Linked DNA regions of Homo sapiens. The protein of the gene in region 2 purifies or fractionates together with the protein of the main gene of each other region. This does not show direct contact. Each region holds a gene or a part of one and is shown on either strand. Other genes may lie near its edges.

Region 1 (7,665 bases), on a different chromosome or scaffold from region 2:
TAAGAAAGCAACCACTTTTCAAAGACTACTTGTACTATGAGGAGAACATTTGAAAAACTGTATTTGGAAATGTTTCCATTGTTCCATGATTTTGTTGCTGAAAACAATGTCTATTAAAAACATTGCTTATTTTTTAAGTCATTATCTATATAGTTTACAAAATGTTTAAAAACATGAAAAGACTATTCCAACCAATCTAAGTCTTCTGAACAAAGAGCTTGAAAAACTGAATTTTAAACCTAATTGTGTGTATATATGCAATGTCAATTAGCCATAATAGAAAAACTAATTGAGATCAGGAATGAAAGGAATGTCATTGCTGAGTTCAACAAAATTCTTTGCATAATTGATCATTTAGAATTGAAACAGTAGGAGTACAGCAATTCTTCAATTAGCATCAGTTTTTCCATTAGGATCTGTGAATCTCCGAAGGTACCTTTTTTTCAGTCATGTAAGTCATTAAAATCAAGTATCTGGCTGGGTCCTATGGCTCATGCCTGTAATCTGAGCACTTGGGAGGCAGAAGTGGGAGGACCACTTGAAACCAGGAGTTCAAGACCAGCTTTGGCAACAAAGCAAGAGAATGAATCCTCTACCAAAAAAAAAAAAAAAAAAAAATCAAGTGTGAAAATAAACTGAATTTGGAATCAGAACTCTGAACAGCTGTATCTAAGGGTCACACTAAGATTTATCCTAACCATCAACACAGCACATGAAAATAAATCAGCAACAGCAAATGTTTACTGGATGCTTTGACATTATCATTTTAGTTTACAAAACCCGCCCATCAAGAACAAAACATCATCCTCAGATTAAGTTTAGTAATAAATCATTTTGCCAATGATTCTGAACTCAAACTATAAAATTCAAATATCACTACCTCTGATTTCCCATAAGGACTAAATAAAACCTCACAAATGAAAGTGCCTAGTACAATGCCTGACATAAATACATACTCAATAAACATTAACTGCCTTTCTTTTGATCTTAGGCCATGTGATGTAATACTTGCTAGATGTGTGATGGGGCAAACTGCTTAACTCCATCTGTAAAATGGAAATATTAATGCCCACCTTATAGGGTTAAAGTCATTAAAGGATAATGCATACAAAGCCCTTCCACCCACAAAAGGCATTAATAAATCCTGAACCCTCTTTTTTCAAGATAACCTATTCATAACTGTATCAAAAGTATAGAATCATGGGTTGTTGAATTCAAAAATATCCTTCAGAATCCCTATCTTTTGGAAGAATTACAGGAATACAATACCATAAGACGGACGACACAGAGATGAAGTGTGTGCTCCATTAGTGTTTACTGAACTCAGGTGAATTGCTAAGTCCATTATCACTCGGCTAATTGTGGCGGTCTGGAGAGTCTCTCCAGGGGTAGGACTCTCACCTCCTGGTGAGCGACTGGGTCTTACTGCTCTCAAACCAGGGCTCTTTCCACTATCTTGTGTCCTCTCCCTAGTTTATGTCAGGTACATACTGATAAAATTATATACTGATTTATAGTCTCTAGCACAAATTCGCTTAAGGGTCATAATAAGGTATTTCCATAATTTAAGATTTTCTGTGGCTAAGGAAGTAAGGGTTGGGCAAAGGGTAGAAGTCACTCTATTCCTGTCAAACCCAAAAGTGAATATACTTTAAGTAAAATGCTATGCATTGAACACACAAATGCAGGTACGACTGCATGTGGTGAGTCGAAATTCAGATGAAGCACCTGTATAGCAATGAGTGAATTCACAGCCTCTAGATGACAAGTAGAAGGCAGGTTTTAAAATGTCTGAAAATTGCAACTTCAGCGCTTTTGCAACACCTGCTTTTACGATCTGTCACGTGGAGCAAAGAGGCATAACTCAACAGCACTACTAGGGCCAGACGACCATTCACAGGCTGGATACACAAACCTATCTTGTAAACATATAATCAAGCAAAAGCAGGCAAACCGGCACAAGAGGCCTTCACCTAACTTTCTTCCAGATGGCAAACGCTGCACGATGACAAACAAGGCAAACATGGTGCGCAAGCAGCCAACCCAAAACAAATAACTAGGGATTCTGACATCCAAAGGTCCTCTTCATCCTTAATCCTTCCAGAATGTCATCCCACAAGGCAGGGTTTGTTTGCCACAAAACCCTGCGGCCCCTCACATCCCGAGGGACAGTTCTGGTCACCTCCTCCCACGGACCTATTGAGCCTGCTTCACAGACCCCCGAAGCACTGACTCAATTATTCCCACAGTGTAGATTCCATTACATCTGTTAAAGTTTCCGGAACACGTGATTTAGGAGAGCAAACTTGTTAGAAACAGATTAAACAACACTCTAACACATTTCTCTGAGCCGTGTCACACTCGGGTCCAAACAATTCCCAAGGAGGGACTGACTGTCACCAATCTTGGATGGCACTGGTTCAAAGCGCCCTAAAGAGGGGAGCGAGCCCCGCCCGGCTCGCCGCCGGCAGCTCTTACCCATTTGTCCAAGGGGACCTGGGCGAGGGACCCGGTGCCTTGGTACAGGTCCAGGCTGAGCTGCTCCAGGCTCAGCTTCTCCTGCAGAAAGTGGCCCAGGTACCTCTGCAGGAGGTACCGGCAGGCCCTCTTCTTGATGGACTCCGAAAACGGCCAAGGCATAGTGACTGCTGGCAGCTGGGCTGACTGCGGCTGCGGGTTGCGACGGCTCCGGCCTCGGGGTAGCGACTCCGGCTCCAGGCCGCGGCGGGGCCTAAGCCTGGGGCGGCCCCTCCATCCCTATTTGGTGCCGGGAGTCCCTCAGGGAGACCCCATCGCCGGCGCCGCACCGCTCGCGCTGGGCCTGGCGGAGGCAAGACGCAGAGGGGTCCTCCTGGCCCCAGGCCAGGGGACTTCCGAGGAGGGTCCCAACCGGCTCGGAGAGAGTGCAAGAGAGCGCGAGAGGAGGCGGCAGGGGCTGAGGCAGCCACCGCCACTGCCGCCGCGCGACGAATTTGTTGTCATCCGCGAGGCGCGTTCCCGGCTGTAGGGACGCTCCTGGCGCGTTCACGAGACCCAGACTCCCGGCGCGCCGCCGGGCGCTGGCGGAAGTGACGCCACACTGGGGCCGCGGAAGGCGGGCAGAAGGGCGGGGGCTGGAGCAGTTCCGGCTCCGAGGGGGCGGGGCGGAAGAAGGCGGGGAGGGAGGGGGCGGCACCGCCGGTCGGCTCCAGTCGCCTCCGGAGGAAGGAAGAAGAGGACGCCGGGCGCGCAGGTGAGCGGCAGCCGGGGTGGCTGCGGGCGAGGGGCGGCCCCCGAGAAGGGCTAGGGGCTCGGGGCGCCGGCGGGCCGTCAGGCCTTCCGGATGGGGACGCGACGCCATGCAGCTGGCTGGGCCGAGAGGGGCGGCAGGCTGCAGGGGCCCCGCGCCCGTGTTAAGAGGGGTCTGGGGGCCGGTCTGGCCGGCCTGGCTCTCCCGGCTCCCCTCAGACCTCGGCGCCCCGGAAACGCACACTTGGGGCTCCGCCGTCTCCGCTGGGAGGACTGGAGCCCTTCTCGAGCATCCCCGCCCGCACCCGAGCATTGACCGGTGCCCATTGTCAGCAAGTTCTTCGGCCCCCGCCTCATTCAGGTATTGTTTCTGAGGCAGCTTCTTCGTTGCCGTTTGCCTGGCGGTTTGCAGAGCGCTTCTCGCATACGCTCGCTTAATCCTGGGTGTGTCATAGCAACGATCAGGAAACTTGGGTTTTCGAAGCATCTGTGGGCAAAACTGCATTCCTTGAGAAATGCTAAAGGCTCCTGACCCCGCCGGAACCTGGGTGAAGAACTTGGGCTGTTCTGGCAGTCTGCGCAATCGTATTTCTGCCTTTTGGGAGGTAACTCCTGCAGAGGCGGAGCCGGCTGTTAAGTTAAGTCAACCTCGAAAGGCCTGGGTGCGGGTGTTCTATGGCCCAGAAGCCAGATGTCCTTCGTTAGAATCCCGGCACTGACACCTATTAGCCGCCCAGCCACTTTGAGCGGCCACTGCCCTCCCCGAGCCCACGTTGCCTCCTTTGCCGAGTGTGAGCGGATTAAAATCTTATGTGCATGGATTTGTTGGGAAGATTAAATGATATGAGTAGGGCACGAACCTGAACAGAGTCCTGAAACATACAGCTGTTTAATCACAGTGAATTAAGACGACCAGTTTAAGGAGTGAAATGTTTACTGTCTCGGCAACTTTCATGAATGCCTTGGAAATACAGCCCAAAATATTGGTAGATGGAGAAACATCTGGTTCCCCTTTCCACAACCACCTTTTCGTTTTAGAACCAGGGTACTTTGTATGCAGTTGCTTGGATTGTTGATTTCCCTCATTCTTTGTAGACTCATCTCAAGTATTCTCAGTAACTTAGATTCCCTTGCTCTTCATTCAGAAATATTTGTTAAGGTCCATTAAATGAAAGTCACCACAGTTGATCATGTGAACAGTGTCAAGAATCAGGCCGAACCTTCAAGGAGTTTATGTTCTAAAACGGAAGCATGGTGGTACCTGCTTGTGGAGGCTGAGGCGGAAGGATCGCTTGAGCCCAGGACTTTGAGGCTGCATAATTGCATTGACGCTATCCATAGAGTGCCTGCAATTTCAAATATCAGAAAGGATCGTACGAGCTATGATCATGCCACTGCACTCCAGCCTGAACCACAGAGCAAGACCCTTTCTCTCAATAAAGTGGAAGTTTGTTCATTTATTCAGTAAATATTTATTGATTGCCTTCTGTGTGCCAAGCACTGTTCTAGGTACTGGGATTACAGCAGTGAACAGATAAATCTCTTCCTTCCTGGAACTTACATTTTATTGAAGGGAGGAGACATACAATAAATGAGTGAATAATATGCTTTGTGGTGATAAGGGCTGTTGGAAAAACGAAAGCAATGTAAAGGGAGTGGAGATGGGGAAGAGAGAAGGGACTTGCCATTTTTATATGAGATGGTAAGAGAAATTCTCTTGTTTAATAAGATTACATTTTAGCAGAAACTTGGAGAAAGCTGGGAAGTGAGGCACATGTATACCTGGAAGAGTTGTTTTCCATGCAAGGGGAACAGCAAGTGCAACGCCCTGTCACGGGAGAATGCTTGATGAATTTAGGGAACATCAAGAGTGAGTGAAGGAAAAAGTAGAAGCTGGGCAGTTTGGGGGTGGGGGGTGGGGCGGGCGGGGCGCAGAGGAAGCACATCATGTAGGGCCTCGTAGGCCATTGATAAGAACTTTGGAGCCGGGCACAGTGGCTCACTCCTGTAATCCCAGAACTTTTGGGAGGCCGAGGTGGGCGGATCACTTGAGGTCAGGAGTTCAAGACTAGCATGGCCAACATGGTGAAACCCTGTCTTTACCAAAAATATATAAAAAATCAGTCAGGTGTGATGGCGTGCACCTGTAATCCCAGCTACTTGGGAGGCTGAGGCAGGAGAATTGCTTGAACCCGAGAGGCGGAGGTTGCAGTGAGCCGAGATTGTGCCACTGCACTCCAGCCTGGGCAACAGAGTGAGACTCTATCTTAAAAAAATAAAAAGAACTTTGGCCTTTACTCTGGGTGAGGTGGATTTAGGAGAGGAGTGACACAGTATGGCCTAAGTTTCTATGGGATCATGCTAACTGCTGTTAAGAATAGTCTGGTGTGGAAGTGGGAGGGCCAGAGTGAAAACAGCAGAACCAGTTAGAAGGATATCACCGTAATGCAAGGAAAAGATGACAGTGGTTTGGACCAAAGCGGTAGCGGTGAAAATGATTAGTTAGAAGCAGTTGGATTCTGGATATATTTTGAAGATAAGACATGTTTGTAAATAATAATTCTAATATTTGCCATAAAAGGAATACAAACAAGGTGGTATGAAAAGGCAAAGGTGGGATCTTGCAAGAAATTAGAATAGGCTTTGGAAGGTTTGAAATAGACTTCTGACAAATAGATACAATTTGGACTTCTTTCAGCAGTTATTAAATAAGTGGTTTCCTTTTTCAATATAGAATTGCATTCGGGCTATCCATAGAGTGCCTGCAATTTCAAATATCAGAAAGGAAAATTAAAACGACGGTTTTGCAATAACAAATATGCTCTATTCAGAGTATTGTGTGTTGCCTTGTAAACTTTATGCTTTCTAGGAGAAATTCAGTATAAATGTTAAGGTTTAGGACCTGTCATTATGATATCTTTGGCTACAGTAGGGTACAAACTCATCTCAAATCACAGTGCCATTTTTGTGTTTTGTCAAAGACAAAGTACCTGTCACAAAATGTTAACACCTTGCATTAATTAAGGAAGATGAAAATAATTACCCTGGCCAGGTGTGGTGACGTGCCCCTGTAATCCCAGCACTTTGGAAGGCCAAGGCCGGAAGGATCACCTGAGACCAGGAGTTTGAAACCAGCCTTGGTGCCAGAGCAAGACCCTATTTCAAAAAATAATAATAAATTTTAAAAAAGAAAATAATTACCCAACCGAATATTGTCAGCTTATTAAGAATTATGTAAAAGTTTGAAGTGACAGGTGAGAGGCTGTATGCCAGAGGCTAAATGGGTCATGTCAAAATAATCCTCCTTCAGAGAAATCTGTTAACATGGGAAATGAAAGAAAAGCCAAGGAGATGTATTTGACCTTTTTTAATGACTTGCACCTGAGGTAACAGGACGACGCTGTCAGGGCTCCACACCTCACGGCTCTTGGAGGAATTGTACAACACAGCAGCAGCCAATCCCCCACATAATGTAAAGAGCACCTAACTTGGAGCCACATGGCTTGAGCTTCAGGGTCAGGCTTTCTTCTTGAAAGATAGTGTTAAATACTTTTAATATAATAGATTATATTTTTTCAGCTGTTTGCCCAGCACAGTTCTAAGCACTTTCCATGTATTCATTCATTTAGTTCTCTCAATATCACTTAAAGGTAGATGCTATTTTAACATCATTTTAAAGAGGAGGAATGTGTGACTGAGAAAGATTAAAACATCTTTTTCCAAGTCCCAGAGTAAATTAAGTGGCCAAGCTAAAATTCTAGCCCCAGTCAGTCTGCTTGAGAGCCTGTTAACCATCACATCTTCCTGGCCCCTTGTTCATATTGAGAGGATTTACCAGGTTGTAGTGTGTGATACAAATAAAGGTAATCATGATTAAGATATCGTATCCTGCCCTCAGCTGACTGTTAACAATGTCAACTGAAAGGTCAGACTTTCAAAGTGAAAATTTGCACTCCATATGTTCTTGAAATCTTTCTGGGGCTGTTCTTTTGTCAGACTAAGTATATATGACTGTCTTTGCCCATTTTTTTGTCATCAAGGATAAAGCTCTTTGATGCTCTGAACTCGTAATGAAACAAAATAGTCTAATAAATTAGGAAGTAAAGAATAAACGATTTAGTAATCAATGTCATAATAACCAGTTGGATGAATCCTCCAAAAACACAAACACCCGAACACCGCCCAAAAATTATGGAGAAAGAGCTGGTTCCTAAATAATTTATGTATGATGTTTTAAGGAATCATTTATGGAAACTTTACATCAGGTGATACAACCTACCAGAATAAATAATAGCAATTGTCAAGTATTCCAATTTTTGTCTCTTTGCTAGAAACAGAATATTGCTCAGGATCTGGTAGAGAACCAATTTGGAGTTTAAATGGAAAGCAGTGAGGTTTTCTATTTTATGTCTCTGTAGATATTGATTTATGTTTGTT
Region 2 (7,022 bases):
ACAAATATTAGCCAGGTGTGGTGGCGTGCACCTGTAGTCCCAGCTACTTGGGAGGCTGAGGTGGGAGGCTGGCTTGAGCCTAGGATGTAGAGGCTGCAGTGAGCTGAGATTGTGACACTGCACTCCAGCCTAGGTGACAGAGCCAAACTCTATCTCAAAAAAAAAAAAAAAAAAAAATTTGGGGCCATCTGGACATGGGTGCAGGGCTCATCTGTTGATCACCCAGCCAAGCAAAGGCACCAATGTCACCCAATAACAGGAGCACCAAGGCCTCACTGATGCCACAGGGGTGCAACACCACGAGATGAGGAAAAGGGAGCTAAGAAGAGAGAGGAGAGGGTCAGACTCAGTGTCCAGAGTGGCTGTCACAACATGGTCAGGGGAGCCACTCACCAGCCACCTGGACCTAAGCAAAGCCAGTACCAGAGAGGGACCTGCTCCTGTGTGGTGCCCACGTTGCCTGCTCGGCACCATCTTCAAGCTTTGAATTATTACCCTGAAGAGAATCTAAAATGACATCTAAAATATGCAAAGCCACAGGCATGAAGAGGGCTCTACAGTTGCTTGGTTGGGTAAGGGAGTGGGGAGCTACTGCAAACAGGTACCAGAGAACATTCTGGGAGTTATAAAAGCTATTAAAAAATTAAAAAGCCAGGCACGGTGGCTCACGTCTGTAATCCGAGCACTGTGGGAGGCCAAGGCAGGTGGATCACTTGAGGTAAGAAGTTCGAGACCGGCCTGGCCAACATGGTGAAACCCTGTCTCCACCAAAAATACAAAAATTATAGCCAGGTGTGATGGCGCATGCCTGTAATCCCAGCTGCTCGGCAGGCTGAGGCAGGAGAATCGCTTGAATCTGGGAGGCAGAGGTTGCGGTGAGCCGAGATTGTGCCAGTGCACTCCAGCCTGGACAACAAAAGCAAAACTCTGTCTCAAAAAAAAAAAAAAAAAAAATACAAAAATGAGCCAGGAGTGGTGGCACACACCTGTAAGCCCAGCTAATTGGGAAGCTGAGGCAGGAGAATTGCTTGCACCAGGGAGGCGGAAGTTGTAGTGAGCCAAGATTGCTCCACTATACTCCAGCCTGGGTGACACAGCGAGACTCCGTCTGAAAAGTAAAAAATAAAATGACAGCCAGAAGGTAAGTGTTACCAGAGCTGGGGAGACTGACTACAGGAGGGGAGGAGGGGCCTGTGGGGGTCTGCAAGTGCTCTGCATCTTGACTGGGGTGGTATTTACAGGGTACACACATTGGCAAAACTCTCTGAACTGCTCATTTACCACAGGTGCAGGTTACTTCATGCAGATTACACTTCAATAAACAAAAATAGGCAAAAAGATAGGGTTTTTTTCCCCCCTTGAGTTCATGGTGTTTGAGAACTAAAATTCAGTTAGGGAGGGAAGCAAGGCCAACTAGACTAGCACGAGGGCCTAGCTGGGACCCTCCCGAGTCCAGGCACTCACCCGCCCAGCTTCCGGCCATAGGCAATCGCCTCCTCCACCAGCTCCTGGTAAGCGGGCATCTGTGCTGCGGCCAGGATCAGGGACGGGTTGGTGGTAGCATCCTGGGGCTTGTACTCGTCGATGGCTAGGGAAATAGTTTTCAAAAGCCAAAGTAAGTGGAGTACTTGCTTCCAACTGGAAACATGTGAAGGAACCCTGTAATTCCCCAGGACGTTAGGGGAGTCCAGAGCATTTCCGAAAGCGGGGTCCAGCCACACTTCTCACACCTTCTTCTGGGTCACTGAAGGTTCATCAAGAGGCGGCTGTTTGCATAATGATGGAACAACAAACACTAAGTGCCCAGCGATCAAATATGCCCCTGCAAGAGGTGACCTGTAACAGCATGGGAGTGAGCGGTGCGACAGCTGGGAGAACGCTGGTCAAAGGAAAATGTGCATCCCACTGCCGTACCACCACAAGGAGGCGCGCGGTCTAGTCATGAGCCACATGTGAACGCTGATCTTATGGACTGGGTCATTATCACCATACCCAGCTGCAACAGAGTCAAGAAGCCAAGGGGAGCTGGGCGCGGCGGCCCACGCCTGTAATCCCAGCACTTTGGGAGGCTGAAGCGGGTGGATCACGAGGTCAGGAGATCAAGACCATCCTGGCTAACACGGTGAAACCCCGTCTCTACTAAAAATACAAAAAACTAGCTGGGTGTGGTGGTCGGCACCTGTAGTCCCAGCTACTCGGGAGGCTGAGGCAGGAGAATGGCTTGAATCCAGTAGGCGGAGCTTGCAGTGAGCCGAGATCGCGCCACTGCACTCCAGCATGGGTGACAGAGTGAGACTCCATCTCAAAAAAAAAAAAAAAAAAAAAAAAAAAGGCCAAGGGGAAAAGCACTCAGGACACACAGCATTGCTCCAAAAATTATTACCTGCAAGCCTAGTTGCTGAAGCGGCCTCTAACCTGAAACCAGTTTATCTAATAGTTGCTGAACCGCACTGCTGCAACTTTAAGACTAATTTTATCCACTGCTATCACTCACCAATCATTCTTTTTAGGTTTCATAGAAAGACTAAATTAGCCAGGTGTGGTAGTGCATGCCTGTAGCGTCAGCTACTCAAGAGGCTGAGGCAGGAGGATCGCTTGAGCCCAGGAGGTTGAGACTGCAGTGAGCCATGATCATGCCACTACACTCCCACCTGGGCCAGAGAGCAAGACCCTATCTCTTAAAAAAATAAATTCAGGCCGGGTGCAGTGGCTCATGCCTGTAATCCCAGCATTTTGGGAGGCTGAGGCTGGTGGATCGCCTGAGGTCAGGAGTTTGAAACCAGCCTGGCCAAAATGGTGAAACCCAGTCTCTACTAAAAATACAAAAATGAGCTGGGTGTGGTGACACATGCCCGTAATCCCAGCTACTCAGGAGGCTGAGGCAAGAGAATCGCTTGAACCCAGGAGGTGGAGGTTGCAATGAGCTGAGATTGCACCACTGCACTCCAGCCTGGGTGACAGAGTGAGACTCTGTTTCATAAATAAATAAGCAAACAAATAAATAAATATCGCATTCAGTAGCTTCTGCAGGTAACTTGACAAAACCTGACCTAAGAATCCTTTTAGTCGGAGTGGACAACTTTGACAATGTCCCAAGTTTTTGTTCAAATTGTACTGGTGGTCCCTTTTATAAAGCTGACATTCTCTGCTTTAATCAACCCAGTCATAAAATGCTACTCAGTGGCTGGGCACAGTGGCTCACACCTGTAATCCCAGCACTTTGGGAGGCCAACGGGGGTGGATCACTTGAGGTCAGGAGTTCGAGACCAGCCTGGCTAACACGGCGAAACCCTGTCCCTACTAAAAATATAAAAATTAGCCAGGCGTGGTGGTGCATGCCTATAATCCCAGCTACTCGGGAGGCTGTGGCAGGAAAATCACTTGGACCCGGGAGGTGGAGGTTGCAGTGAGCCGAGATTGTGCCACTGCACTACAGCCTGGGCAATGGAGCAAGACTCTGTTGCAAAAAAAAATAAAAAAGTTTTTTTCTTCAGAGTAACCAACTAAACAGTTCAAAACGTCCAAACTTGTAGCCACTGAGTAGCTTTTTTTTTTTTTCTGACACAGAGTCTCACTCTGTCATCCAGGCTGGAGTGCAGTAAAATGATCTCGCCTCACTGCAACCTCCTCCTCCAGGGTTCAAGTGATTCTCCTACCTCAGCGTCCTCAGTAGCTGGGACTACAGGCTCACACCATGATGCCTGGCTAATTTTTGTACTTGTATTTATTTTTTATTTTTTTCCGAGACGGAGTCTTGCACTGTTGCCCAGGCTGGAGTGCAGTGGCGCAAGCTCAGCTCACTGCAACCTCCAACTCCCAGGTTCAAGTAATTCTCCTGCCTCAGCCCCATGAGTAGCTGGGATTACAGGCACGAGCCACCACGCCAGGCTATGGTTTTTTGTGTTTTTTTTTTTGTATTTGTATTTTTATTTTTTTGAGACGGAGTCTCGCTCTTTCACCCACGCCGGACTGCAGTGGCGCCATCTCGGCTCACTGCAAGCTCTGCCTCCCGGGTTCACGCCATTCTCCTGCCTCAGCCTCCCGAGTAGCTGGGACTACAGGCGCCCGCCACTGCGGCCGGCTAGTTTTTTGTATTTTTAGTAGAGATGGGGTTTCACCGTGTTAGCCAGGATGGTCTCGATCTCCTGACCTCATGATCCGCCCGCCTCAGCCTCCCAAAGTGCTGGGGTTACAGGTGTGAGCCACCACACCCGGCCTTTTTTTTTTGTATTTTTAGTAGAGACGGGGTTTTGCCATGTTGGCCGGGCTGGTCTCGAACTCCTGACCTCAGGTGATCCACCCACCTTGGCCTCCCAAATTGCTGGGATTACAGACGTGAGCCACTGCGCCCGGCCTCTGAAGAAACAACCTGAACTGCATTCCTCTGCTCTCATACCAGAATAATCAACAGAGAGGACTTCTGTGACCGATGTGTGGGGGTTTCTCCCCACGCACCAAACAAGCAATTAATTCTTCAGTGGATACCAGCTGGGCATCCTCCAATTCAATTCCAACCCTGTCTACCTGGAGACAGCCTCAGATCCCACAGGTTGAAGGCTTAGTCCCAACCAACCATTCTCCATTCCCACCCGTCACAAGTCTGGGCTCCAGAACTTCTGATCCACTGGCTTCAACTTGGGGTTGTCAACTTGAATTAACCTTTGTGTTCCATTAATTTGCTGGAGCAGATCACAGAAGTAAGGGAAACACTCACTTACATGTACTGGCTTATTATACAAAGGACACAGAGGAAGAGATGCATAGGGCAAGGCATGTGAGAAGGGGCACGGTGCCTCCATGCCCACCCTGGGTGCACCACCCTTCAGGAGGCTCCATGTGTTCAGGTATTTGGAAGCTCCCTGAACCCTGTCCTCTTGGGCCTTTTATGGAGACTCTACTGGAGAGACATGACTGAAGTATGGACAGCCCTGTTGAAATATTATCATCTAATGAGTGAGGAAACCCAGCAACGCCTCTGTGTTCACCTTCTTACCGTCCTCCGTGCAACATTCCTTCCTCCAGGGTATGTGATGGGACCCCTTTTGAAATGAGGGTCTTAGGACCCACAATTAGAAAAGCAAGTAGACGGCCGGGCGCGGTGGCTGGTGCCTGTAATCCCAGCACTTTAGGAGGCCGAGGCGGGCAGATCACGAGGTCAGGAGATCCAGACCATCCTGGCTAACACGGTGAAACCCCATCTCTACTAAAAAAAAAAAAAAAATACAAAAAATTAGGTGGGCGTGGTGGCGGGCGCCTGTAGTCCCAGCTACTCTGGAGGCTGAGGCAGAAGAATGGCGTGAACCCGGAAGGTGGAGCTTGCAGTGAGCTGAGATCACGCCACTGACTCCAGCCTGGGCGACAGAGCGAGACTCCGCCTCCAAAAAAAAAGAAAAGAAAAGCAAGTAGATAATTTATTTATGGACAGCTCCAAAACAGGCAGGAAAGATTCCTCCCTTGAAGAGAGAAAGGAACAGGTGAAAGGAGAGGAGAAGGTCAGTGATGGAAATTCTGTTTTCCAAGGCCTGCTCCTGAGGCCTAGAGTGCCCCAACATTATAACAGGGCTGTGGGAGTTATGAGACAGGAACTGTGTACACACACATGCATGCATGCACACACATCAATTACCATCAAAATGAGGTTGATGGTTTATTATTATTATTATTGTTATTTTGAGATGGAGTCTCGCTCTGTCGCCCAGGCTAGAGTGCAGTGGCGTGATCCCGGCTCACTGCAACCTCCGTCTTCCAGGTTCAAGCAATTATCTCGCCTCAGCCTCTCGAGTAGCTGGGATTACAGGCACCTGCCACCATACCCGGCTAATTTTTTGTATTTTTAGTAGAGATGGGGTTTCACCATGTTGGCCAGGCTGGTCTCGATCTCTTGACCTCAGGTGATCCACCCTCCTCGGCCTCCCAAAGTGCTGTGATTACAGGCGTAAGCCACCAGCCAAAAATTTTTTGTAGAGATGTGGTCTCACTGTGTTGCCCAGGCTGGTCCCGAACTGCTAGGCCCAAACAATCCTTCTGCCTCAGCCTCCCAAAGTGCTGGGGATTATACGCATGAGCCACCGAGGCTGGCCCCAACTTTCTCTTGTTCTTTGGACAGATCGAAGACCACCCAGTCTGCTTGAACTGCAATTTTTTCTTCCCAAATAAAACGTTGAATTTAGAGATTCGTCTCTACATTTTATTTTGACTTCAACACAGATACCACATGGTTATCTTCAGCAAGGATTGTTAGCTGGGAGTGGTGGCGCACATCTGTAGTCCCAGCTACTTGGGAGGCTGAGGTGGGGGGATCACCTCAGCCCAGGAGGTCAAGGCTGCAGTTAGCCGTGTTGCACCACGTGATTGCACCACTATACAGCCTGGGTGACAGAGCAAGACCCTGTCTCAAAAAAAACCCCAAAAACAAAAACCCAAGGATTCTTTATTCTTAAAACTATTGTTTCTTTTAACACATTAGTTATTTCTCACATAACCAAGCTAGGAATTCAAAGAAGCCAACGAGGCTTAACCTGGGGTCTTGTTCATCTGGCTGTCCAAATGGAAAGTGGAGGTGAAGAGTTATGGCCATTGACACCCATAGAATGGCCCATTGCTCCAGATTAGCCAGTTCAGTAACTTTTTTTTTTTTCTTTTGAGACAGAGTCTCGCTCTGTCGCCCAGGCTGGAGTGCAGTGGCGCGATCTCGGCTCATTGCAAGCTCCGCCTCCCAGGTTCGCACCATTCTCCTGCCTCAGCCTCCCGAGTAGCTGGGACTACAGGCGCCCGCCACCACGCCCAGATAATTTTTTTGTATTTTTAGTAGAGATGGGGTTTCACCGTGTTAGCCAGGATGGTCTGGATCTCCTGACCTCATGATCGGCCTGCCTCGGCCTCCCAAAGTGCTCGGATTACAGGCTTGAGCCACCACACCCGGCCGAAGTTCACAAGTTCAGTAACTTTATTTGGCAAATAAATATCTTTTTTTTTTTTTGAGACAGGGTCTCACTTTGTCTCCTAAGCTGGAGTGCAGTGGC
Region 3 (7,380 bases), on a different chromosome or scaffold from region 2:
GTTACCCAGGCTGGAGTGCAGAAGCATGATCTTCACTCACTGCAACCCCCACCTCTTGGGTTCAAGAGATCTCGTGCCTCAGCCTCCCCAGTAGATAGGATTACAGGCGCCCGTCACCACACTTGGCTAATTTTCATATTTTCAGTAGAGATGGGGTTACACCACGTTGGCCAGGCTGGTCTTGAACTCCTGACCTCAAATGATCCACCAGCCTCTGCCTCCCTAAGTGATAGGATTATAGGCTCGAGCCACTGCTCGGCTGAGAACACAGTTTTATCATACAGATGAAGCTTTTAGCAGACAGGCTTCAGAGAGAATAGGTTGCAAAATGTTTATTATCAGACTTAAAGTCTGCATCGATGTTAATGTCAGAGACATACAATGAGGCAGGTTCAGCCCCCACTTCCCATCATGGCCCAAAACAGTCTCTCAGGTTAAATGTTAAAGAGCCCTGGCTAAGGAGGAAGTCCATTCAGATGGTTGGGGGCGCCTTAGAATTTTATTTTTGGTTTACAGCAGTTAAGTACATAGACAGCTAAGTAGCAACAAAAAATGGCAATTATTAGCACCAGAGAAAACAAGAAGTGCAGGAAAAGTAATCTGTATAACATACGGTTCAGCTGTCAACATGATGTTTATTCACACTGTCATTAGAAAAAAAAAACACTGGGCCTGGCACGGTGGCTCACGCCTGTAATCCCAGCACTCAGGGAGGCCGAGGCGGGCAGACCATTTGAGGTCAGGAGTTTGAAACAAGCCTGGCCAACATGGTGTAACTTCGTCTCTACTAAAAATACAAAAAAATCATTCGGGTGTGCTGGCGGGGACCTGTAGTCCCAGCTACTCAGGAGGCTGAGGCAAGAGAATGGCGTGAACCCGGGAGGCAGAGCTTGCAGTGAGACGAGATCCCGCTACTGCACTCCAGCCTGGGAGACAGAGCAAAACTCTTGTCTCAAAAAAAAAAAAAAAAAAAAAAAGAAAAGAAAAGAAAATCGATCGGGTGTGCTGGCGGGCGCCTGTAATCCCACCTACTTAGGAGGCTGAGGCAGAACTGCTTGAACCGGGAAGGCAGAGGCCGCATTAAGCAGAGACTGTGCCACTGCACTCCAGCCTGAGCCACAGAGCGAGACACTGTCTCGAAAGAAAAAAAAACACTGAATACTGATCTAACTAAAACTGGACACAGGTTCAACGGCAGACTACGGAGTTGGGGAGGCCCCGAAGGTGGAAGTGTTTGTGTGTGTGTTTGGGATGAGGGGAAGGAGGTCAGGGGCTACTAAAAATGATACCTACTATACATGGGTTAAATCAATAGACAACAGAAATATAATACCAAATTCAAAAGGTGGAAAGAAGTTTCTCCTGAGGAATATTAAATAAAATAGGGATGAGGGTGATGGGACTGGCTAACTTTTTTTTTTTTTTTTTTGAGACGGAGTCTCGCTCTGTCACCCAGGCTGGAGTGCAGTGGTGTGATCTCGGCTCACTGCAACCTCCACCTCCCGAGTTCAAGCGATTCTCCTGCTCCAGCCTCCTGAGGAGCTGGGACTACAGGCGCGTGCCACCATGCCCAGCTAATTTTTGTGTTTTTAGTACAGACGGGGTTTTACCATGTTGTCCAGGATGGTCTCGATCTCCAGACCTTGTGATCCACCCACCTCAGCCTCCCAAAGTGTTGGGATTACAAGCATGAGCCACCGCGCCAGGAATGGAATGGCTAGTTTTCAACGTGCCTTTTAGAAATACTTCACTAGCCGGGGCGCGGTGGCTCATGCCTGTAATCCCAGCACTTTGGGTGGCTGAGGTGGGAGGATCACTTGAGCCCACGAGTTCGAGACCAGCCTGGGCAACATAGCAAGATGCCATTTCTAAAAAAAAAAAAAAAAAAAAAAATTTAAAAAATTAGCGGGCGTGGCAGCCTGCACCTGCAGTCCCAGCTACTCCAGAGGCTGAGACGGGAGGATCGCTTGAGCCCAGGAGTCTGAGGTTGCAGTGAGCCAAGATCGCATCACTGCACTCCAGCCTAGACAACAGCAAGACCCTGTCTTTAAATAAAACAGAACAGAACAAAGTAAAACAAAGAGAATAGGGACGACTCCTGGGTTGTGTTTTGTTAGTCTGTTTGTTTCTTGTTTGTCTAGTCTTTCAACTGAAGATGTGAATGGGTGAAGATACTTTCAACGAGACGGTTTGTCTGGGGAAGACCAAGAAGGGGGAACAGAAAGATTTCTTCAGTAAGATTCATTCTCACCCCGTTCGGGTTGAGATCCCTAAGGAAAGAAAGTTCTGAGAGGAGAGGATGGGTGGACGTCACAATGAGGCAAAAAGCATCAAAGGGGGAACTTTCTATCAGAACTTTCTAACAACCAGGCGGAGAGCGGACAGCTCTATCTTGGACGGGGTGGTGGCCAGCAGCTCTCTCGGGCCAGGGCTGAAAAAAACCTCCAAGGCTCGGACTGCCGCCCCGACTTCTGAAGCAGCGGTGTCGTTCGGGGCTGACCGACGAGCGTCCCTAGCGACAAGGGGCCGTGTCCATGTGCCGGTTCCCGCGCTGCAAGAGGGGGCGGCGGCCGGAGCTGCCCAACGGGAGGGGAGCACAGAACCGCCACGCGCACACGCCTCGGGCCGGAGCGGCCGAGGATGAGGGGCCTGAGGGAGCGGACGCTCGAGAACAGGAGCCCCCCTGGACCACCTGGGCCACAGGGCAGACGCCCGCGGGGGCAGAGCGCGCCTCACGTGAGGCGTGGGGCGGGGCAATTCGCTTCTCGCCTCAGGCGGAATCGCTCACCCGACGGCACGTAGTCCTCGTCCTCCTCCGACGTAGAGAAGTCTTCGGAGTCGAATTCCTCCATGTTGCTGCCGCTCGACGCTGGTCAAACTCACAAGACCGCAGCAGCCGCCTCCAACGGCAAAGCTCTAGGGAGAGACCATAGAGCCCCGGCGGCGGCGACGGCAGCTAGGGCGGCCCCCGACAGCGCTTTGCACATGCGCAGAGAGTACTACGTGGTTGCCCTACGACACTTCCGGCCGATGCCTCCGGGCTGGCGTCCCTGAAGCCCTCGCTGGGAGCCCGAACCCGCCCGGACGCGGTGCATGCTGGAACTTGTAGTCTTCGGCGCTGCCTCGCCGCCTTAATATAATAAACCTGCTTAAATAAAATTACATATCTATGGAAATACAGGTGACCTTCATTAATCATTAATTCGTAATGCCAAATTCACTTACTTGCTAAAATGTATTTGTAACCCTAAAATCAATCATCACGGTACTGTCTGGGGTTCTTCCCGGGCATGCGCAGAGGGTGAAAATTTGGAGTTGGCGGAGGTAAGGTTCCCAGCTGAAGTTTGAACTGGGAGAAGCGCCGCCTTCTAGTCGCAGCTCCTGTGCTGTAAACAAAGAGTCCTTTCCGCAGTCTGTTTACTGACACTTTTTTTTCTGCTTTTTGTGGGTGGTTTTGCTTTCTAAAATGGCCCCCAAGCGTAGTGCTTAAGCTCTGCCCAGTGTTCCTAAGCGAAAGAAGACCGTGATGTGCCTTACGGAGAAAGTCCGCGTGTTGGATAAGCTCCAATCAGGCATGAGTTACAGTGCTGTTGGCCATGAGCTCAATGTTAACGAGTCGACAATCCGGTACATCAAGAAAAAGGAAAAGGAAATTCACCGATCTGTCCGTGAGGCCGCTCCGGATAGTGCTGAAGTGACCTCCATCGTGCGTGATGAAGCTATGACAAAGATGGAAAAGATGGAAAAGCGGCTAAATTTGTGGATTCATGAGATGTCAATCGATTAAAAAAAACATAGTGGACAGCATTGTGGTGAGGCTGAAAGCCAAAGATATCTGTGGTCACGTTACCCAGAGTCAAAGAAATGCTAAGCCCTTCTCGGCGAGTGCTGGCCGGCTCGCGCGTTTCAAAAGGCGATACGGGGTGAAAAATGTTAAACTTGCAGGTGAGGCGAGCTCTGCAGATCAGGAGGCTGCGGAAGAATTTTAAAAATACTTGCTAAGTGTTATACAGGAAAAGGGTTATGTGAAAGAGCAGGTTTTCAATGCGGATGAGACTGGCTTATTTTACAAGGATGTTGGCAAACGAACCTATATAATGCAAACGGCCTCCAAAGCCCCTGGCTTTAAATCATGCCAGGATCATGCACCCTTGTTATTGTGCGCCAATGCCAAGAGCGACTAAAGTGCAAACTCCTAATGGTGTAAAGAACCCAAAATCCACAAGCACTTAACGGGAAATACGTGAACCATCTGCCAGTCTATTGGAGGTGGAACAAAAAAGTGTGGATGATGTCTGATTGGTTCCACAACTGCTTCATCCCAGAAGCTGAACACTGTCTCCAGGGCAGAAACCTTGCCTTCAAGGGTTTTTTGTTTTGTTTTGTTTTGTTTTTTGTTTGTTTGGGTTTGTTTTGTTTTGGTTTGGTTTTGAAACGGAGTCTCGCTCTGTCGCCCAGGCTGGAGTGCAGTGGCGCAATCTCGGCTCACTGCAAGCTCCGCCTCCCGGGTTCACGTCATTCTCCTGCCTCAGCCTCCCGAGTAGCTGGGACTACAGGCGTCCACTACCACGCCTGGATAATTTTTTGTATTTTCAGTAGAGACGGGGTTTCACCGTGTTAGCCAGGATGGTCTTGATCTCCTGACCTCATGATCCGCCTGCCTCGGCCTCCCAAAGTGTTGGGATTACAGGCGTGAGCCACCGCGCCGGGCACCTTCAAGGTTTTGTTAATTTTGGATAATGCTACAATCCATTGCTGCAAAGAACTCGAAAATGCACACGCCAACATAGGAGTTCTTTTTATGCCCCCAAACACTAAGTCTCTCATCCAACCCCTCAATCGGGGCATAATAAAAGCATTCAAGGCACACTACACAAGGGAGCTTTATATGAAGGCCTGTGAGGCTCTCAGGACCAACAAGGAAACCACCATGCTGGACTATTGGAAGTCGGTCACTACATGCAACGTTATTGATTATGTCAGTACAGCCTGGGAGAGCATTGGTCAGGCTACTACCAATAACTGTTGGGAAAATGTTTGGCCAGACTGCGTGGAGAATTTTGAAGGGTTTGAAGGTGTTACAGAAAATATAAAGAACACTGTCAGAGACATAATGCATATGGCACAGCAGGTAAGTGGAGAGGGCTTTGATGACGTGAAGGAAGGAGATGTGGAGTACATTTTGGCAGAGAAGGCAGTGGAACCAACCAACGAAGACCTGGATGAGATGGCAAAAGAAGGCATTGGAGTTGATGGCCATGAAAGTCGGCCCAAGACTTCCAGAATTGTCCCTCTCACAGCGCCAAAATATCAGAATGGAGTTCTGCCTTGGAAAAAATTTTTAGCGACATGGAAGAGTGTGACCCTACGCTTGATCGAAGCCTCAAATTTAAATGGCTGGCCTCCACTGCGTTTGCCCCTTATACCGAGATGCTTAAAGATTTCAGGCAGAAAAGCCAGGCAGGCAAGGCTAATGCAATTTCTCAAGCCAGTTTGGGAGGGAAGATTGCCCACTCCTTCAACAAGTGTCAAGAGCCAGACTCCTAAGGTAGAAATGCCAGAGGTTGACCTGCCACCCTCTTCCTCTTCTGCAGAATAAATTTCACTCACCCCTCCCCTGGTTTCTGTGGGGCAAGCCAAGGTCGAGAGGTTTAACCACATTGTGCAGCTCCATCAACCGTAAGATTTTAGTTGATATTTTTATAAAACTTAGGATGCTCCATCTTTGAACTTTTTCCCTTTATTTGTATTGCTGTACTGTAGGGTATACAGTATGTGTGCAAAGTAGTGTATGTGTTTACTGTGGGAACTGTACAGTATGTTATACTGTTGACTGTATATGGGAACTATATGTGTGTACTCTGTGTGTGCCAATGAAAAGGTTGTACAGGCTGGACGCGGTGGCTCACACTTGTAATCCCAGCACTTTGGGAGGCTGAGGTGGGCGGATCACAAGGTCAGGAGTTCAAGACCATCCTGGCCAACATGGTGAAACCCTGTCTCTACTAAAAATAGAAAAATTAGCTGGGTGTGGTGGTGGGCGCCTGTAATCCCAGCTACTCAGGAGGCTGAAACAGGAAAATCGTTTGAACCTGGGGGTCGGAGGTGGCAGTGAGCCAAGACCATGCCATTGCACTCCAGCCTAGACAAAAGGGCAAGACTGACTCAAAAAAAAAAAGTAGTGCAATCTCAGTACACTAGAGTACATTACACCAAACTACTGTCATTGAAATTTTATTGTAAATACTGCAGATTATTTTTAAGAAATACATATTAAATAAGGTGTCTTTGAACAGAAACACACATAAAACAAAGTTACATACCGATCAGTTGACAAAAGTGTTGACCAGAGGTTCACAGGAACCTAACCCTGTATTTCTCCCAGGACCCATGGTTCGGTTTTTGCTAATTCAATGTTCTCGACAACTTTATAGCCATAACTACTGTGAATACAAAGAATTGACTATTCAGGAATGCAGCCATCATCCACAGGAACCCTTCAAGTTAAACCATATGGAAGTACAACCATATATAATCTTTACCATTTCTTCAGATTAAAACATTTTAATGATCTATTTATGAGGTAACAATCAGAAGCAAATTCAGAAGAGACACCAATGACTACCACACTATTTGGTTTTGTTTGTTTTTGAGATGGAGTCTCTCTCTGTCGCCCAGGCTGGAGTGCAGTGGCGCGATCTCGGCTCAATGCAACCCCCACCTCCCTGGTTCAAGCAATTCCCCTGCCTCAGCCTCCCAAGTAGCTGGGATTACAGGCGCACGCCACCACGCCCGGCTATTTTTTTTTTTTGTATTTTTAGTAGAGACGGGGTTTCACCATGTTAGCTAGACTGGTCTCAAACTCTTGACCTCAGGCAATCCGCCTGCCTCGACCTCCCAAAATGTTGGGATTACAGGCGTGAGCCACCGTGCCCGGCAACTATTTGTTTATCTTGTATACAAATATGAGTTTTTGTCAGCTGAAATTGCTCCTCATTGACACTCTGGACTAGACTGGGTCTGTAAATCCAGGAAATCAAGAAATAAATCTTTTGTGAATCAAGGAATAGATGAGACATGCATGTGATTAATAAGACATTGCAATGGCTCTATACCAGCAAACTTTTAAAAATAGCCTTATTGATTGGGAGGCTGAGGCAGGCGGATCACAAGGTCAGGAGATCGAGACCATCCTGGCTAACACGGTGAAACCCCGTCTGTACTAAAAAATATAAAAAATTAGCCGGGCGTGGTGGCAGGCGCCTGTAGTCCCAGCTACTCGGGAGGCTGAGGCCGGAGAATGGCATGAACCTGGGAGGCGGAGCTTGCAGTGAGCCGAGATCGCGCCACTGCACTCCGGCCTGGGTGGCAGAGGGAGAC
Region 4 (7,022 bases), on a different chromosome or scaffold from region 2:
CCTGTCCCCATGATTCAGTTATCTCCTGCTGGGCCCCTCCCACAACCAGTAGGAATTACGGGAGCTACAAGGTAAGATTTGGGTGGGGACCCAGAGCCTAACCATGTCAGTCACTCATCAGAAGGGTTCCTTTGCCCTTTGGGGGCTAGGCCCTGTGCTCAGTGCTCATGTGCTGTATTGGGTTCCACCTTTAAAAGCCCCCTGTGAGTTGGGTAGTGGTGTGAGAACCGTGACCCGTCTTACAGGTGAGGAAGCTGAGGCAAGATGCTGGCCTAGGCCATCCAGTTGGTGGTGGAGGTACCCAGGCTGCTCTTGGAGAGGCTGAGGGCACCACAGGAGCTCGGGGAGTCCTGTGGGCGGGAAGCCTCCTAGAGGAGGAAGGCCAGTGGGGCCAGCCCGCAGGGTGTGAGAAGGGCCCAGTTCTGCAGCTGATGGCATCTCCACTGCCCTGTCCTCCACTCCTGCAGCAGAAGTGCCATAGTGGGGTTCGGGAAGACTGTGGGTCCTTGAAGGACAGGAGGCTGCAGGGAGCACCTTCTGTGTGCAGGCCCTTCCCCAGGACTGGCTCTCCAAGGAGGCCTCACAGTCCCTTCCAGACCCCTTCAGGCCAGTGTCACCTGACCACAGTTTGCTTTCATTCCTTGGTGAGCCTTGGGGCAGGCTTGGCTACACCCAGAAGTGATTCACCATGAAGTAAAGAGAGAGAGACACACAAAGAATGAGATGCATGTTTAAGAGCATTTTATTTGGCAGAGAACCAGAGATGTGAGTTAATTATTCCCTACAGTTGCTGGAAATAATTCCCTGTGAAGGGGCATTTCCTGACCCTAACATAATGGAACAAGTCAGTGTAGGGAGAAGGAGTTTAGCTGGGTTCCCAGAAGCCAGGGTGGCTTGGGGCCAGGGTTGCCTGGAGCCTAGGCCCCTGACTGTACCTGGGGGAAGGGGCCAGGGCATCCAGGGATTATCATGTCAGGCCAGGCACCCGGAGGTAGCGTCTTGATAGAGCAAACTGGTCTCCACTCACTGTTTCTCCCTGCCCTCCTGTTTAAAAAGTACAGAATGATATTAAGAAATGAACGTTTTCCTTATTTTTTTATTTTTATTTTTTCTGAGATGGAGTCTCGCTCTGTCACCCAGGCTGGAGTGCAGTGGTACGATCTCGGCCCACTGCAACCTCCGCCTCCCGGGTTCAAGTGATTCTCCTCCTGCCTCAGCCTCCCGAGTAGCTGGGACTACAGGTACGTGCCACCACGCCTGGCTAATTTTTTGTATTTTTAGTAGAGACGGGCTTTCACCATGTTAGCCAGGATGGTCTCAATCTCCTGACCTTGTGATCTGCCCACCTCGGCCTCCCAAAGTGCTGGGATTACAGGCATGAGCCACTGCACCCAACCAATGTTTTCCTTATTCTTAGCACACTGCCTCCCACCCCCAATTTAAATCTAATGATGTATTTTGTCCATGTTATCATGAGAAAAGCTTACAAATCTGTAATCCCAGTGTGTGTGTGTGTGTGTGTGTGTGTGTGTGTGTGTGTGTATAATATAAAATCTAGTATTACACTTTAAACCAAGCCTTCTATCATGAGCTTTTTCTCCTGATATTAACAGTGGAGAGCTGGTTTTTTTTGTTTTGTTTTGTTTTTTTGAGATGGAGTCTTGCTCTGTCACCCAGGCTGGAGTGCAGTGGTGCCATCTTAGCTCACTGCAACCTCCGCCTCCTGGGTTCAAGTAATTCTCCTGCCTCAGCTTCCCGAGTAGCTGGGATTACAGACGCGCACCACCACACTCAGCTAATTTTTATATATTTAGTAGAGACGGGGTTTCATGACGTTGGCCAGGATGGTCAGTCTCAAACTCCTGACCTCAGGTCATCTCCCTACTTCAGCCTCCCAGAGTGCTGGGATTACAGGCGTGAGCCACTGCACACATCCTGAGAGCTGGTTTTAATGATCACATAATATTCTGTTTTATGGAGATGCTATAATCCATCTAGCCAGTCCTTTGTTGTTGGACACGTAAGGTAGTTTCCAAATCGTTCTACAACAAATGTCGACCTTCTGTTTAGGGTTCCCTCTCTTCAAATTAGTTCATGAATGGATGTTTGCAGCCCCCCACCCCTAACTCTAACAGCTCAGGCAATACCAAGCCTCAGGGTTAGCCCAGGCTCCTGTAGGCCCCTTCCCTGTTCACAACCCCTTCCTTGGCATCTCCTCGGGACCTCAGCACGCCCTCTGACCTGAGCCTGATGGCCCTGTAGGGCTTAGCCTTGTCCCTAGTCTCGAAGCCAAAGCTGTGCTGGGCCTCCAGTGCTAGCCTCGGTTCGACTTCCCTGGAAGTGGGTGTGGGCTTGGGGTGGCAGCCAGTTGCCTTCCCTGGAATCCCTTTCTGGGAAGTCGAGTTGGCTTCTCTGGCTCAGCCCCATCATGTGGCCCCTTTCTGGAGCTGCTGTGCCAGACCAGAGTCCCTGCAGGGTCTCTGGGCCCCCTCAAAACCTACAGGGGAAAGAGGAGGCAAGGCTGGGACAGGATAGGGCCTCTGAAGTGTGGGCCTGAGGCTTTGTCCTTCTGGCCATGGTACCCCACAGGGGCACCACCTCCTGTGGTGGAGGCCACAGAAGAGCAGTATGAGGCAGGAGAGGCTGCAGGGAGTGCTCCTGGCCTGCTGGCATGTGGAAGTGCTGAGTCATGCTGACAGCTCCGTGGCTAGCTGTCCCAGCCTCTTCCTGCTGCCCCTGCCTTGGCCCTGCGGCAGGGAGGCCTGGAGGCTTGGACTGCTGAGCATGCAGCCGGGTTGAGGGCCTTTTCCTGCAGGAGCAGGAGGGCAGCCATGTCCCCTCTGAGCCCAACCAGGCACCAGCCTCATTTCCTAGGGCTACACAGCTAGACACTGGGCAGGGTAAGGGGAGGTCCCCAAGTCCTACCACTCCTCACCCTACTTGCATGCCTGCACGGCAAGGAGCGGACAGTCTAGGCTACAGTCAGACCTGCGTTTGAATCCTGGCTCAGCAACTTCCTGACAGCGCGACCTTCAGACAAGTCCTGTCTGTTGCTGCCGTCCCTCTGCTACCCCCATCCCCTCACATCTCCCAGGCCGGGAACGTTCTGTTTGCTGGGTAATTTATCCCAAGTTCAGTGTTCTTTTTAACGTCTCACTGTCTTGAAAAGATCACAGTTGCCTGTGTTGAGGGGAGGAGAGGGCCCCTGTGGTAGAGAAAGAGCCAGGTGCAGCTTCAGTCTTGGGGTCAAGAGCTAGTCTTGGAAGCTTGGGGAGAGCCTGTCCCAGGAAGCGCCTGGTCCTCAAGTGCCCTCTGCTCTATCCTCCCCAGAGCCCTCTTGCTCCAGGGTGTTGCCTAGAGTGCCTCAGGCCTCCTTGGCCCACCTCCCTCCTCCGGGCAGAAGCAGAGCTTGGTTCCCAAGGTTCCCCTTTCCCACTGGCCCACCCAGCCAGTCCCAAGGCCTCCTCCAACCTCTGGTTCACAGCGGGGTCTGTCCCCTGCAGCAGGTGGCTCAAGCCTATTCACCCACCCTTCCTCACTTTCCTCTCATTCCAACAACCCCCATTTTTCTAGATCTTATTAGCCAGATCCCTGTTGTCCTAGACCTCTGTTTCTTAACAACCAGTACTTCTTCCTGAGCTCCTGACGTCTTCCTTCATGCCATTTTCTCTTGGGGTGTGGCTTGTGGTAGGCTGCAGGAACCTGGTGACACTGTTGCCCCTCGAGTGTAAATGCCATCTGTTCTGCATATCCATGCGTGGCTGCTCCTTTACCCAGAATGCAGGCTCCTTGGATGGGTGGGGGGGTGGGAGCCAGCTGGGTCCAGGTGAGAGGGACTGGCCTGATTCACTCTCTGTCCACAGCTACCGAGTCTATTGCTTGCTGGGAGACGGGGAGCTGTCAGAGGGCTCTGTATGGGAGGCCATGGCCTTCGCCAGCATCTATAAGCTGGACAACCTTGTGGCCATTCTAGACATCAATCGCCTGGGCCAGAGTGACCCGGCCCCACTGCAGCACCAGATGGACATCTACCAGAAGCGGTGCGAGGCCTTCGGGTATGTACGAGGCTGTGGCCTGAGTGTGGTCACAGCACGGGAGAGTGGTCTGTGATCACAGCTTTGCAGGTGCAGGTGCAGGAGCTGAAGCTGGGACCTTAAGCACCATCTAAAGGTCCCTTTCTTTAGCATTTGACTCACAATTTCAAACTCTAGGCATTTGGACTTAATGGCTCAGGATATGTGGGCCAGGCCCAGTTTTAAGTGAGTTTCCTTGTTTTCGTGGTTGTGGCATGGTGGCTCTCGGAGCTTCCACACACCATCTCACGTCAGCTCGCTTTGTTCTTGAGGAAGGAGGGTTCTTGAGGGATGGGGGCTTGCTCGGTAAAGCTAAAGGATGTATAGCTGCGGAGAGGTTTGAACCTCAGTTTGGTGGCCACGTCCTGTGCCCAGCCCCGCCCAGCCTGGGGAGGAGGAACAGGCTCCTGGTGAAATGGGAGATAGGGTTTCCAGATGCCCCCCTTCGGCCTTGATTGGTTACAAATTCAGGGTCAAAGGGCACAAAGCAGGGAGGTCAATCTGCATGGGTGTCAGCCAGAGGGGCTCCACCTCAAAGCCTCCACCGGTGTTGCCAAACACAAGCTGCTCTGCACAGGGGCCCAGCATTGGCTGAGGAGGCTGTGGAGGGGAGGGAGCAGGGCAGGTGCCGTGCAAGGCTTTGAGACTCAGGTCAGGCCTCCAGGACTGCGTTTTGCGGATGAACCCATGCCTGTGACTACACTAAGTAACAGGATGCTTGGGGTTACCTTGCAGTAGCACAGCATACGCAGGCCTGTGTTCCCTGATGACTGACCTCAGAAAGGGAGAGGAGGAAGGGAGGAAATAATCTCTGTTGGACAGGCGAGGAAACTGAGCCACAGGGTCCTCACCCCACAGGCCTCCCCAAGGCCACATCTATCTGGGGACTCAGAGTACAACCCCAGCAGCACCCCCAGGACCTGTGTCCATAACCTCGTGACTCAAGCCAGATTCCTGAAGTCCTGGCTCCACCGCTAACTTGCTTTGTGGCGTGGGTCACGTTACTTACTCCACCTTCGGTGTCTCAGTTGATTTGTCTGTACAATGGGGCCAGCTCAGCACCCAAGCATGGCGTGGTGAGGCTTCAGTGGGCTAATATGGGTAGTGGTTGGCATGGCACTCAGTTTGAGAAGTGCTATTTTTATTCTTATGTCAAAAAGAGTCCCCAAAAGGATAGCTTTTCAAGAGAAAGGGTGCTCTGCCCCAGCTCCTTCCTGTATATTTGACTCCATGGTTCATTTCAAAAACATTTCCAGCACCACATCCAGCATCTGTGGAGTGATCAAATGTGTTCCCCAAATAAGAATTGGGCCAAAAAATTCATCAAGAATCTAATAGCAGACAGATTCCAAACCCAGTGCGCTGACCCCAGAACAGCTTTCAGTAGGAAATGAGCAGATCAGGAATGAAAGAGACAATAAAGGAACTGAGCTCTGGATTACTTAAGAGGAGGAGGAAAACCTGTTCAGAGGCAAACAAAAGGAAGTAAAATAATGTGAAAAAGAAAAGGATTTAAAAAACCCAAACTGGAAACAGGAATGTTGCAAGCTTTCTACTACTCCAGCTGAGGCCGCAGTTGTGGGGTGGAGCCTGGGCAGACCCCAGCTGCCAAGGCAGACCTTTCCCTGGAAGGCTCCTCGGTGTTGTGGCCCCTGGGAATTGCCCCTTACTCTCTGCCCCCTGTCCCCAGTTGGCATGCCATCATCGTGGATGGACACAGCGTGGAGGAGCTGTGCAAGGCCTTTGGCCAGGCCAAGCACCAGCCAACAGCCATCATTGCCAAGACCTTCAAGGGCCGAGGGATCACGGGTCAGTATGCACAAGCCGCCCTCCCCACCTTCACCCCTCGCCCAGACACTGTGGCTACGTAGCTCTGACCCGCACATCCAGGGAAACAGCCCTTGCTGCTCACTGAGCTCACCAGGCTCCAGGGAAGGGGAGCGGGAGATGCTGTGACTCAGTGACCCCTGTGGCTGAGCCAGGATTTAAACTCAGATCCGTCTGGCCTCTGCCGGTGGGGGCATGTACAGGCAGGAGGAGAGGAGGGACTTGGAGGGTCTGTGGGTGAGAGGAAGGTCGTGGAGTGAGGCAGCCCCCGTGCCCCACCCTGGCTGGTGCCTTTCAGAGCTGCAGCTGTGTGTGCTCTGCCAGCTCCGGCCACCTGCTCCAGCTGAAGGGCCGACACAGAGCCAGGCAGGGCCCGGAGAGAACTGTTCCCTCCAGGAGGTGAGTGGGGTACTCCTCAAGCAATGGCAGATGCTGAGCAAGGCCTGTGTGGGCCAAGAGCCTTGGGGGGTTTGGAACCTGGGTTCTGCCCCAGGCCGGAGAATGAGGCAGGCGTAAGTCACTCCCTGGCACCCAGGTGTGGGCTTCAGATTCCTAGGCCTGGGATGGCCTCACCCATTTTAAAGATGGGAAAATGAGACTACAAGTGGTCAGGGACTTGCCCGGGGACAGAGGAAGTCTATGGCACGAGGGGGGCTGATCCCAGGGCCTGGGTCGGCTTCCCTGCCAAATGCCCCTGGCTGCCCACCTGCCTGCTCTCAGGGGTTGTGGCTTGTTCTGCCCATGTAGACTCAGGTATATGAGGATGTTCTGAGTGGGGGTTTGGCAGTGCTGGGAGGTGTCTGGGAGGGGGTGGATGTCGAGGAAAGGGCTCTGGGATATTGTCATGGCTTTGGTGCTGCTGCCTGGCACTGCCCTCTGGTGTTAAAAATGGGCAGGATCTGGACCACTTGCAGCTTCTTGGGGGCTCCTGCTAGTCTTTCGGGCTGCTGGGTGCTACCTGGGAGTTCAGTCTGTTCTTGGCTCTGGCCAGACTCTAGTGACTACTGAGGTGACCTCCAGGGAGAGGGATATTCAGCCTTCCTGGCCGCACACAACAAGGTGCCATGGGGTGGGCATGCCTAGGTGCTTATAGACTCCTCTGCTGCTCACAGATGCATTGGG

What was found.
Region 1: the proteins of TALDO1 (region 2) and ATG2B purify together in Homo sapiens (affinity purification with mass spectrometry; 2 studies listed by BioGRID and IntAct, with this or other methods). This does not show direct contact.
Region 3: the proteins of TALDO1 (region 2) and CFDP1 purify together in Homo sapiens (affinity purification with mass spectrometry; 2 studies listed by BioGRID and IntAct, with this or other methods). This does not show direct contact.
Region 4: the proteins of TALDO1 (region 2) and TKT fractionate together in Homo sapiens (co-fractionation; 2 studies listed by BioGRID). This does not show direct contact.

Annotation. Positions count from the first base shown.
Region 1 is NC_000014.9:96,360,337-96,368,001, forward strand, and holds the start of ATG2B (autophagy-related protein 2 homolog B), read right to left. Parts: upstream 3,006-7,665; 5' UTR 2,641-3,005; coding exon 2,479-2,640; intron 1-2,478. UniProt on the Homo sapiens protein: Lipid transfer protein required for both autophagosome formation and regulation of lipid droplet morphology and dispersion.
Region 2 is NC_000011.10:750,445-757,466, reverse strand, and holds part of TALDO1 (transaldolase), read right to left. Parts: intron 1,589-7,022; coding exon 1,465-1,588; intron 1-1,464. UniProt on the Homo sapiens protein: Catalyzes the rate-limiting step of the non-oxidative phase in the pentose phosphate pathway. Catalyzes the reversible conversion of sedheptulose-7-phosphate and D-glyceraldehyde 3-phosphate into erythrose-4-phosphate and beta-D-fructose 6-phosphate.
Region 3 is NC_000016.10:75,430,501-75,437,880, forward strand, and holds the start of CFDP1 (craniofacial development protein 1), read right to left. Parts: upstream 3,004-7,380; 5' UTR 2,853-3,003; coding exon 2,789-2,852; intron 1-2,788. Other genes in the region: tigger transposable element-derived protein 1-like, read left to right, coding at 4,802-5,599. UniProt on the Homo sapiens protein: May play a role during embryogenesis.
Region 4 is NC_000003.12:53,232,016-53,239,037, reverse strand, and holds part of TKT (transketolase), read left to right. Parts: intron 1-1,217; coding exon of another isoform or gene 1,218-1,241; intron 1,242-3,863; coding exon 3,864-4,055; intron 4,056-5,763; coding exon 5,764-5,882; intron 5,883-7,022. UniProt on the Homo sapiens protein: Catalyzes the transfer of a two-carbon ketol group from a ketose donor to an aldose acceptor, via a covalent intermediate with the cofactor thiamine pyrophosphate.